2 separate regions of the Homo sapiens genome follow, and region 2 is linked to region 1. The links come from fine-mapping of genetic effects on gene expression. A gene starts in region 1. The other region holds a variant in brackets. All regions are shown on one strand. Distances are between the middles of the regions. Region 1 holds the start of IFNLR1 (interferon lambda receptor 1). Region 2 overlaps CLIC4 (chloride intracellular channel 4).

The links. PIP is the estimated chance that this variant, and not a neighbour inherited with it, causes the effect.
Region 2: its variant is fine-mapped to the expression of IFNLR1 in testis (GTEx, PIP above 0.99).

The regions. Positions count from the first base shown.
Region 1 is chr1:24,185,152-24,190,151 of GRCh38, reverse strand. IFNLR1 (interferon lambda receptor 1) reads left to right here and starts at 2,863. Exons shown (of 7, transcript NM_170743.4): 1 at 2,863-2,961. The coding sequence starts at 2,904. RefSeq lists a silencer at 2,601-3,090.
Region 2 is chr1:24,809,041-24,814,564 of GRCh38, reverse strand. It overlaps CLIC4 (chloride intracellular channel 4), which reads right to left. Exons shown (of 6, transcript NM_013943.3): 3 at 346-471. Among named protein-coding and RNA genes, the nearest start is that of CLIC4, 66 kb to the right of the region's middle. The variant A/T (reference allele first, on the strand shown) is at 2,915.

The sequences.
Region 1 (5,000 bases):
TTGTTGTGAAGATTAAATACTGTATGTAAACTGCAGTGCCACTATATAACAAAGACTCAATAAAGATTCGTGCAGTCAGCTGTTTGGGATAAAGAGATATCAATAGAGATATATTCATTTTATTCCAGAATGGATGGATTGTATTTGAGATACCTGAAAGAAATTGAAGCAGTGTATTTAGGACCTAAGTAGAAGCAAGGTCGTGGTAACTGGCTGAGATTTTCTGACCGGCATCTATAGATGACATTTTTTTTAAGGTTTTGAAAGATCCAACTTGGCCAAGCTCATAGTCACAAAATGTCTCTTGAAGGATCAAGGCATCTGAACACACAATTTTCTAACTCGAAGCTATGCGTGGGCGGGGAGGTGGGGGAAGAGGAACAAGAGAACAAACATGTGACAAACAAATTGTCAAAAAAGAGCAAGTGCCAGTTTCAGATGCATAGCACAGGAGCCCATGGGTGGAGCAGGTGGCAAATGAAGATATTTCTGTACCTGCTGTTGAACCGCTCCAAGCACAGTGGGATTCCGGGTCTAAAAGAGTTGCAGTTGCTGGGTGGAAATGAAAGTCAACATTTCAGGGCCGGGTGCATGGCTCATGCCTATAATCCCAGCACTTTGGAAGGCCGAGGTGGGCAGATCACTTGAGGCCAGGAGTTCGAGATTAGCCTGGCCAACATGGCGAAACCCCGTCTTTACTAAAAATACACAAATTAGCTGGGCATGGTGGCTTACGCCTGTAGTCCCAGCTACTTGGCAGGCTGCGGCATGAGAATCGCTTGAACCAGTAGGTAGAGGTTGCAGTGAACCATGATCACGCTACTGCACTCCAGCCTGGGTGACAGAGTGAGACTCTTGTCAAAAAAAAAGAAAGCAAGAAAATAAGAAAGCAAGAAAGAAGGAAAGAGAGAGAAAAAAGAAGGAAGGAAGGAAGGAAGGAAGGAAGGAAGGAAGGAAAGAAAGAAAGAAAGAAAGAAAGAAAGAAAGAAAGAAAGAAAGAAAGAGAGAGAAAGGAAGGAAGGAAGGAGAAAAGAAAGTCAACAGTCAACATTTCAGAGATCCCAAGATACCAACACTGACCGTGCCTGCTGCTCTTCCATCCTCCTCCACCCTGCGCCTTTGAGGTGGAATTGCGTCCTCTGTGAGCAGGGCTTTGTTAAGAGATCCTAATTAAGGCCAGGCACAGTGGCTCATGCCTGTAATCCCAGCACTTTGGGAGGCTGAGGTCACCTGAGGTCAGGAGTTCAAGACCAGCCTGCCCAACATGGTGAAACCCCATCTCTACAAAAATTAGCTGAGCATGATGGCAGGTGCCTGTAATCCCAACTACTTGGGAGGCTGAAGTGAGAAAATAGCTTGAACCCAGGAGGCGGGGTTGCAGTGAGCCAAGATCACACTATTGCATTCCAGCCTGGGCGACAGAGCTTTTGTCTAAAAAAAAAAAAAGAAAAAAAATCCTGATTAAGCAGAAGCCTTGATGCTAGTCCCAGAAGCATCCTGAAATTTCCAAAAGAAATTTCCCCCGCGGTTAAACTCAGAGCAACTTTTGGACCCACCAAGCTCTGTGAAAATCATTTTCTCTTCCAAAAACTGATGGGACCAAAGCTGATCCCAGTTTCAAATAATTATCAAAAAATTGGAAACGAAATATGATCAGAAAAGAAGAAAGTTGAAAAAGAAAATCCTCATCACCCAAAGACAACAACCATTAATATTTTGGTAATTATTATTCCAAATATCTTTCTATGCATACAGACAGACTCACACACACACACACACACACACACACACACTTTTTTTTTTTTTTTTGAAACTGAGTTTCACTCTGTCGCCCAGGCTGGAGTGCAGTGGCGCGATCTCGGCTCACTGCAACCTCCGCCTCCTGGGTTCAAGCGATTCTCCTGCCTCAGCCTCCCTGATAGCTGGGATTACAGGTGAATGCCACCACGCCCGGCTGATTTTCTGTATTTTTAGTAGAGACGGGGTTTCACCATGTTGGCCAGGCTTGTCTCCAACTCCTGACCTCAGGCGATCCACCCGCCTCACCCTCCCAAAGTGCTGGGATTACAGGCGTGAGCCACCGCGCCCGGCTACACACACACTTTTTTAATGGGCCTATGTTTTAGCACTCGCTTTTCTGTTTCTCAGTGTGTTGCAAACACCTCGGTGTCGATACACACCATTCGGCAACGTCCTCCTAAAGGGCCGCATAATATTGCGCGTCGTGGCGTGTGCCTTACTGGGAAGCTACTGCTGTCCAGGTGAACACCACAGCCTTCGGGGTCAGAAAGACAGCTTTCCCCAGAACAAGCACCTGAAGCTCTGGGGCCTGCCGCTCCCCGGGAGAGAAGTACGTGGAGAAGGGCAGCACGGATCCGCCGGGATCCCCGGGGGCATTAAAGGGAATCGCGTGTGTAAGGCGCGGAGCTCAGCATCCGGCTCAGAAACGCGCTCGGATCCCGCCAATGGCATTGAGGCCGCGTAGCCAAACCGGCCTTGAACTCTCCCTAATCCTGCCAAAATGGCCCGTCCTGGAGCACTGGACTGGCCGTGGGTTATTGATCATCAGCCGGTTTCTTCCCCTCCCCTGCCCTTCCCCCGTGCACGGATTTACTGATTTTTTTTTCCGGGAATTGAGTAAAACAAAACTAAGTGCAGATGAAGCAGAGGTACGGGCGAGTTTCGAGCGCGGGGACCGGCGCGCTCCCCCCCCCCCCTCCCCCCGCGGCGGGGCTGTCCCCAGGGACCTTCTCAGTGAATCCTAGGCGGCAGGGACGGGCCCGCGGCTCTGCGGGCCATTGGCTGCCGACTGCGTCACCTGCCCGCGGTGGGCTAGGAGACGGGAGGCGGGAGGCGGGAGGCGGGGACCTGGGCCCGGGCGGGGACGCCGCGGCAGGAAGGCCATGGCGGGGCCCGAGCGCTGGGGCCCCCTGCTCCTGTGCCTGCTGCAGGCCGCTCCAGGTAAGGGCGCGGGGCCGCGGGAGGGAGGGGGAAGAGGGCTCCCCGGGCCGGGCCGCGCCTACCCTCGGACCCGGAGCTCCTGGGACAGGCACGGGGTCCGCAGCCACCCGAGCCGGGTGCGAATCGGCCCTGCCTACGCGCCCCCAGTTTGCTTCTTCCCAGGACTGAACAGAACCGGGTCTTTGATATTCCTCTCCCGCAGGAAACGAATCCAGTTTCCTAATGCTTCCAGCTTCAGGAGAACTGGAGAAAAAAGACAGCGGCAGTTTGATACTGCATATTTTTTAATAAAGTGCTTTTTAATGTTTCCTAAAGAAAGCACTGATCCCTGCGTGAAAACCACACTTGACCCTAAAGTGTGGACAGCAGGGAAAGTGGGACCGATTGATGTCCCTTCCCGTTCCTGCCAGGCCTCTGGTGGGACGGAGCTCTGGTCGCCTGTGCCCTGCTTTCTAACAAGACGGCTTTCTTTTGGTGGTGGTTGTTGTTTTGTTGTTGTTTTGTTGTTGTTGTTGTTGTTGTTGTTTTCCCACCTCTACTGATGAGTAAGGTGTCAGGTACAAAATTCCTCGCCGTAGGACCCAACCACCAAACCTCACCGCCCACGACTCCAACCGAAGCAGGGAAGAGAAGGTCCAGAAATCGCCCCCAGGATATTTTCCTAGTCTTGGACTCACAGTTTAAAGAGCTGTAAAGGTCCCTGGGCATAATCCAATCATCATAAAAGCCTATATTTATTCAGCAACTTCTTTGTGCCAGGCACCGCATTATTCTGGAAGCCTCACGACCCAGCCATCCTCGGAGGTAGATATTATTTTTACTTTTCCGATGGGAAAACTGAGGCTCAGAGCAATTCAGGGAATTCCTCAAGAAGGATGGCAGAGGTGAGGCACACAGAAGAGAGAAGAGGGGCTAAAGCAAGCCTGGCTAGCTTTTGCCTCCAGGGTAGGCACGTGGGACAGGCTGTCCATCCACTGGGTCACTAGGCCAGCCAGGGATGCTCCAGCCCCCAGTGCCCACAGCAGCGTTCTCTGTGGCTGATGAGGGACCGTGTACCTGTGTGTGGAGGGAGGGTGGGGTCTTCTGTTCCCCTTTCACTGTCAAACCCAGACCTTCTTGTACTTTCACCTGATAAGTATTTAATATACACAACACTAACTATGGTGTGATGATTTAGGAGTAAGTACAGCCAGATCTAAGTTCAAATACTGGCTCCCACACAAACTGACTGTGTAGCCTCAGGCAAGTTAGTTAGCATCTGTCTCTGAGCCTAGCGCCCTTTCCATGGAAGCAGAATGAATGACACCTACCCCATAGGGTGGTCTGTCCCAAGGGTGATTGAGGTTTTACATGTAAAGAGCCAAACTAGTGCCTGGCATCCTTTGAAGGCTTCATAGAGGAAAGTTGCTCTAACTGCTGTTTTTCTCATGTGACCTAGCTCGAATCTGGGGACTGTCCTGCCCATAGGATACCTTACAAGTGGCTTGCAGACAGCCTGGTCTCCTGCTGGTCACCCGTTAGGAAGTCCAGAAGCTGGGAGTAGTAATAGCACTAGCCTCGTGGTGATACAGTCCCAGCTAGAGGACACAGGATGAGGTGGAAGCAGGCACCCACTTTTGGGTCTAGAAGGTGATGGGTAGGCAGCCGAGGCTGGGGACAGCCATCCACAGAACTGGACCCTCCCTCCCTGATGCCATTTTGCAACCCGTATGGATTTCCATCATGGCACATGGGACACTTCAGGACCCTGAATTCTCCATGGGACCATGAGCTCCTATAGGGCAGGAATGAAGTTGTGTTCTTCTTTGAAACCCCTGGCACACCGTGGTCAACAGATCTTGTTTGACTCGTAGTGGTCAATAGATGGAATAGTTGGAATCATAAAGCTCAATAGACCCCATGAGAACCTAGAAGACAAAGTACAGTCAAGAGCTCGGACTTTGGAGTTGGCTAGGCCTGGACTGAATCTGATTCTACAACTTAATAGCTGAGAGGGCCTTGGTTTTCCCATCTGTAACGATTATAATTATTATAATGAA
Region 2 (5,524 bases), 620 kb before region 1:
GTTCAGTTGGAATGTGTCTTTCCCCACCCCTTCTCCTCTTTAAACTTCTCTCTCAGTTTGAGACCTACAGTCCACAAATAACCAGTCTTTCCTGACCTATCAGACACATCCCAAATCTGTTTCTACCACATATTCTACAGCTTAGACAAATCCCCACCTTTCTTAGTATGGCTGATTGGCCTAGCTGGAAGCCAATTCTTATATCTGTGTAGCATTAATTATAAGAAACATAGAAGAGAGTCCTAGTCATTCCAAATTAATGCTGCGAGAAAGATCTCTACTGACAAATAACACAAGCTTCAAAGAAGTGACAATATTTTCATACGTATTTTCCTTGATACTCACTTGGGAGGGCATAAGACTTCTTCAAGAAATTCCTCAATCTTATTTACATCCGTTTTGACTTCACTGTTGAAAGTTATAAATGGTGGGTGGGTCCCGGGAGCCAAGTTCTGCAGGTCTGCTGGCTTCCTGTTGGGCAAAATATTGGTCAAAATCAGATCATTTTTTACTCTTAAACAACAATAATACTTTAAATTCTCAAAGTTGGCCAGGCACGGTGGCTTGCGTCTGTAGTCGTAGCACTACAGGAGGCTGAGGTGGGACACTGCTTAGCCCAGGAGTTTGAGACCCAGCCTGGGCAACATGGTAAGATCCTGTCTCCACAAAACATAAAAAATTAGCCAGGCATGGTGGTGCGTGTCTATAGTACCAGCTACCAGGGAGGCTGAGGTGGAAGGATCACTTGAGCCTGGGAAGTTGAGGCTGGAGTGAGCCATGATCGCACCACTGCACTCCAGCCTGGGCGACAGAGAGACCCTGTCTCAAAAAGAAAATAAATAAATTGTCCGGGCATGGTGGCTCATGTCTGTAATCCCAGCCCTTTGGGAGGCCGAGGCGGGTGGATCACCTGAGGTCAGGAGTTTGAGACCAGCTTGGCCAGCATGGTGAAACCCCATCTCTGCTAAAAATATAAAAATTAGCTGGGCATGGTGGTGCGCACCTGTAGTTCCAGCTACTTGGGAGGCTGAGGAAGGAGGATCACTTGAACCCGGGAGGCGGAGGTTGCAGTGAGCTGAGAATGTACCACTGCACTCCAGCCTAGGTGACAGAGTAAAACCCTGTCAGAAAAGAAAAAGAAAAAGAGAAAAAGAAAAAGAAAAGAGATCAAAGTGGTTCTAAAATTTAAAGTATATAAAACTGAATAAGAAATGGTATTTTTCAGCCGGGCACGGTGGCTCACGGCTGTAATCCCAGCACTTTGGGAGGCCAAGGCAGGAGGATCACGAGGTCAGAAGTTTGAGACCAGCCTGACCAACATGGTGAAACCCCATCTCTACTAAAAATACAAAAGTTAATTGGGCGTGGTGGCATGTGCCTGTAATCCCAGCTACTCAGGAGGCTGAGGCAGGAGAATCGCTTGAATCCCGGAAGCAGAGGCTGCAGTCAGCAGAGATCTCACCACAGCACTCCAGCCTGGGCGACAGAGCAAGACTCCATCTTAAAAAAAAAAAAAAAGAAAGAAAGAAAGAAAGAAAGGTATTTTTCAACCAGGTGTGGTGGCTCACGCCTCTAATCCCAGCATTTTGGGAGGCCAAGGTGGGCAGATCATGAGGTCAAGAGATTGAGACCCTCCTGGCCAACATGGTGAAACTCCGTCTCTGCTAAAAATATAAAAATTAGCTGGGCATGGTGGCATGCACCTGTAGTTCCAGCTACTTGGGAGGCTGAGGAAGGAGAACCACTTGAACCCGGGAGGCGGAGGTTACAGTGAGCCAAGATCGCACCACTGCACTCCAGCCTGGTGACAGAGCAATACTCTGTCTCAAAAAAAAGAAAGAAATAGTACTTTTCCACTAGATATAATAGCTGTAATAGTATTCTAATAAGAAGCAAGCCTCCACAAAATACATAATTTATGGTAAGAAAATGCTTTGATTTTTTTTTTAACCAAAATACAAAATCCATCATTCTCATTCCAAATTAACTAAGTCACTCATTAGAGATAGTGATAGAATGAGGAGGGAAAAAAGATTTTGGAGAGTTAGTGTCTGGTTTCAACTCTGGCCCCAACTAATTGTGTAAAGATGGGTAAGTCATGACTTCCCTAGGCCTTTTTTTTTCTTTTTGGCAAAATAAAAGAGAAAAGCAGCTGAATCCTGCAGTCATCTTCAACTTCAAAAGATTCCAAATTCTGGTGCTATTTCTTTCCCATTATTCTAGAAGTCCAGGCTTGACAAGGAAAAGGATCACCAGATTAGACTATCTAATATCAAAATTACTTCAATACATAAAAGATGGCATAATGAAGGGTAAAAAGCAACAAAGAATGGACAAAGTACTGAGTGAGAAAAGCTTAAAATCTACATTACCTAAGGATTTTGTCCAAATTCATTCCAAAGGTCATCAAAAAAATCAAATAGGTATGGGTCAAAAGAAATTGATGAGAGACAGATAAAACAAGTGAACACACAGAAAAATGTAAAATAGCACAACTATAAAGGGAATTTAAAAGTAAACAATAAGATGTCTTCCTCCTGTTGATTAGGAAAAATTGAAAACACCACAAAACACTGATAAAGATGGTGAAACTGTTATGCTGACAACTACTAACAGCAAGAAGTGTTTGTACTATCTTGTTAAAAAAGCAAAATGGCTCACCCAAACCCACCAATGAATTTTAGGATCAAAAAATGAGATGACCAGATATGGTGTGTTTCCTATGGCACCATGAAGTATTCTTACCAAAGAAGTTGACCCTGAATCTAATCAAGCCTCTGGGGCAGGCTGGGTGCAGTGGCTCATACCTGTAACATTAGCACTTTGAGAGGCCAAGGCAGGAGGATTGCTTGAGTCCAGGAGTTCAAGCGAGACCAGCCTGGGCAACATAGTGAGATCCCATCTCTATAAAAAA[A/T]TTTTTTTTAATTAGCTGGGTGTGGTGGCATGTGCCTGTAGTCCCAGCTACTTGGGAGGCTGAGATGGGAGGATTGGTTGAGCCCAGGCGGTCGAGGCTGCAGTGAACAGTGATCATATCACTGCACTTCAGCCTGGGCAACAGAGTGAGACCCTGTCTCAAAACAACAACAACAACAAACCAAAACAAAGCAGCCTCTGGGGCAGCTGTTTCTCAAATTGTAAGCCAGGAGACCCTTTCACCAGGTGATCCATTAGGTCAGAACTATTCTTATAATACTAAGGCATCATTTGCCTTTTTCACTCTCATTCTCCTCTCGTGCACATATAGTAAAATTTTCCAAATTTACTTGGCTACTTGGTACAAGATATCACAAGGTAATGAATGCAGAAGCAGACACGAGAAACCTCTTCTAAGATGTGCAAAAATGTAAAAGAATGCCACTCTTCTCACTATTTTTTGTTTTGGGAAATATAGTTGTTTTACATTAAAAATGTTTTATGGTAATAAGTAGTGGGTTCATTATTGTTCTATATTTAATGAATTAGTAAATGATTTTTTTTTTTTTTCCTGAGACAGAGTCTCACTCTGTCGCCCAGGCTGAAGTGCAGTGGTGCGATCTCGGCTCACTACAAGCTCCATCTCCCAAGTTCACGCCATTCTCCTGCCTCAGCCTCCCAAGTAGCTGGGACTACAGGCGCACACCAAGCCCAGCTAATTTTTGATGTATTTTTTAGTAGAGACAGGGTTTCACCATGTTAGTCAGGATGGTCTCCTGACCTCATGATCCGCCCACCTCGGCCTCCCAAAGTGCTGGGATTACAGGTGTGAGCCACCGTACCCGGCCATAAATAAACATTTTTAAAATTTCTCAGGATTTTTTTTTTTTGAGACCAGTCACCAAAGCAGGAGTGCAGTGTCACAATCATGGTTCCCTGCAGCCTTGATTTCCTAGGCTCAAGCAATTCTCCTACCTCAGCCTCCCAAGCAGCTGGGACCAGAGGCACACTCCATCAAGCCCAGCTAATTTTTAAAAAATTTTTTGTAGAGATGAGGATCTCACCATATTGCCTAGGCTAATTTCTCAACTTTAATTTCTAATATAGTAAAATAGGTAGATATAACCCACATAACTGAAAGCTGTTTGAGGCCTTCAATAATTTAAGAGTACAAAGGGGTCCTGAGATTATTTACAGGAAATGCAGGGAGGGGGAAAATGAGAGGACAAAGTTAAATGCTACCACAAGGAAGCAACTGCTAAATTCTGGATTTGGGACAATCTACCTTTCAGCTGAATGGTATTTTTACCAGACACAGGTGGGGGACTGTTATAGATTAAGAAAAACTTAAGAGATATAACAATCAAACATAAAAAGTAGAAATTACTTGGATACTGATTTGAACAAACCAACCAAAAATAAAAAGATATTTTAGAGATAACCAGGGAAATCCCAAATTGTATACTAGGAACTTCAGGAGATCAGAGCATTGTGGTTAGGGAAGAAAATGTCCACATTGTTTGAAGACATACACTGAATTAAGTAGGGATGAAACGACATGATGTCTAGCATTTACTTTAAAACATTTCAGCAAAGAAAATCAGAAAAAAGGGGCAAAGCAAATGTGGCAAGATCTTGATAACTGAATTGGGTTTACGGAGAAGTTTATTCTATTCTTATGCATGTTTGAAAACTTTCATAATTATAAAAGCAAACATAAAAATGTGTACTTCAAGAAAAGTAATACAACAACATATAGTTTCAAAGAATGTTTCTGCCTCCTATTATAGCCCAGAGCTGTTTATCTTGTTATTAAGTTAGCCTGCCTGCCTTCCTTCTTCCTTCCTTCCTGACCATAAATGCACAGAATTTGAATAAAATAAAGAATATTGGCTGGGCATGGTGGCTCATGCTTGTAATCCCAGCACTTTGTGAGGCCGAAGCGGGTGGATCACCTGAGGTCAGGAGTTTGAGACCAACCTGGGCAACATGATGAAACCCCATCTCTACTAAAAATATAAAAATTAGCTGGGTGTAGTAGTGCATGCCTATAGTCCCAGCTACTCGGGAGGCTGAGGCAGAATTGCTGGAAGGCGGAGGTTACAGTGAGCTGAGATTGCACCACTGCACTTCAGCCTGGGCGACAGAGTGAGACTCTGTCTCCAAAAATAGTATTTTTAAATATATCATGAAAGTGAAATACTTCGTCATCAGAATTTTCAAGATAGAGGGGAATCAAAAATCTATAACCAGTTTATAATCTATCAATTTCCCTTGGTCTTATTCATATTCTCTCTCTGGCTCCATCTTTCAATTTAGGTTAGAAAGCCTCAGGTTTCTATGACTACATTCCAACCAAAGAAACAAAGATTTATTTAATTATCTCATTAATTTAAAATTTTTAACTCAAAGTCCAAGTTCTAGAGCCTATCTTGCTTCCTAAACAAAGAAAAATAAGACATATTTCCTATCAACTTCTGTAAGAACCTAACCTCCAAAAGAGGACTTTTAAAAGTCAAAACCTGATTTGATTTTCAACTCTGATGCTTTCACTGAACATTCTTTAGTCTGACAAGCTCAAGTTTTTCACAAAATGAAATAAGTCAGCCCT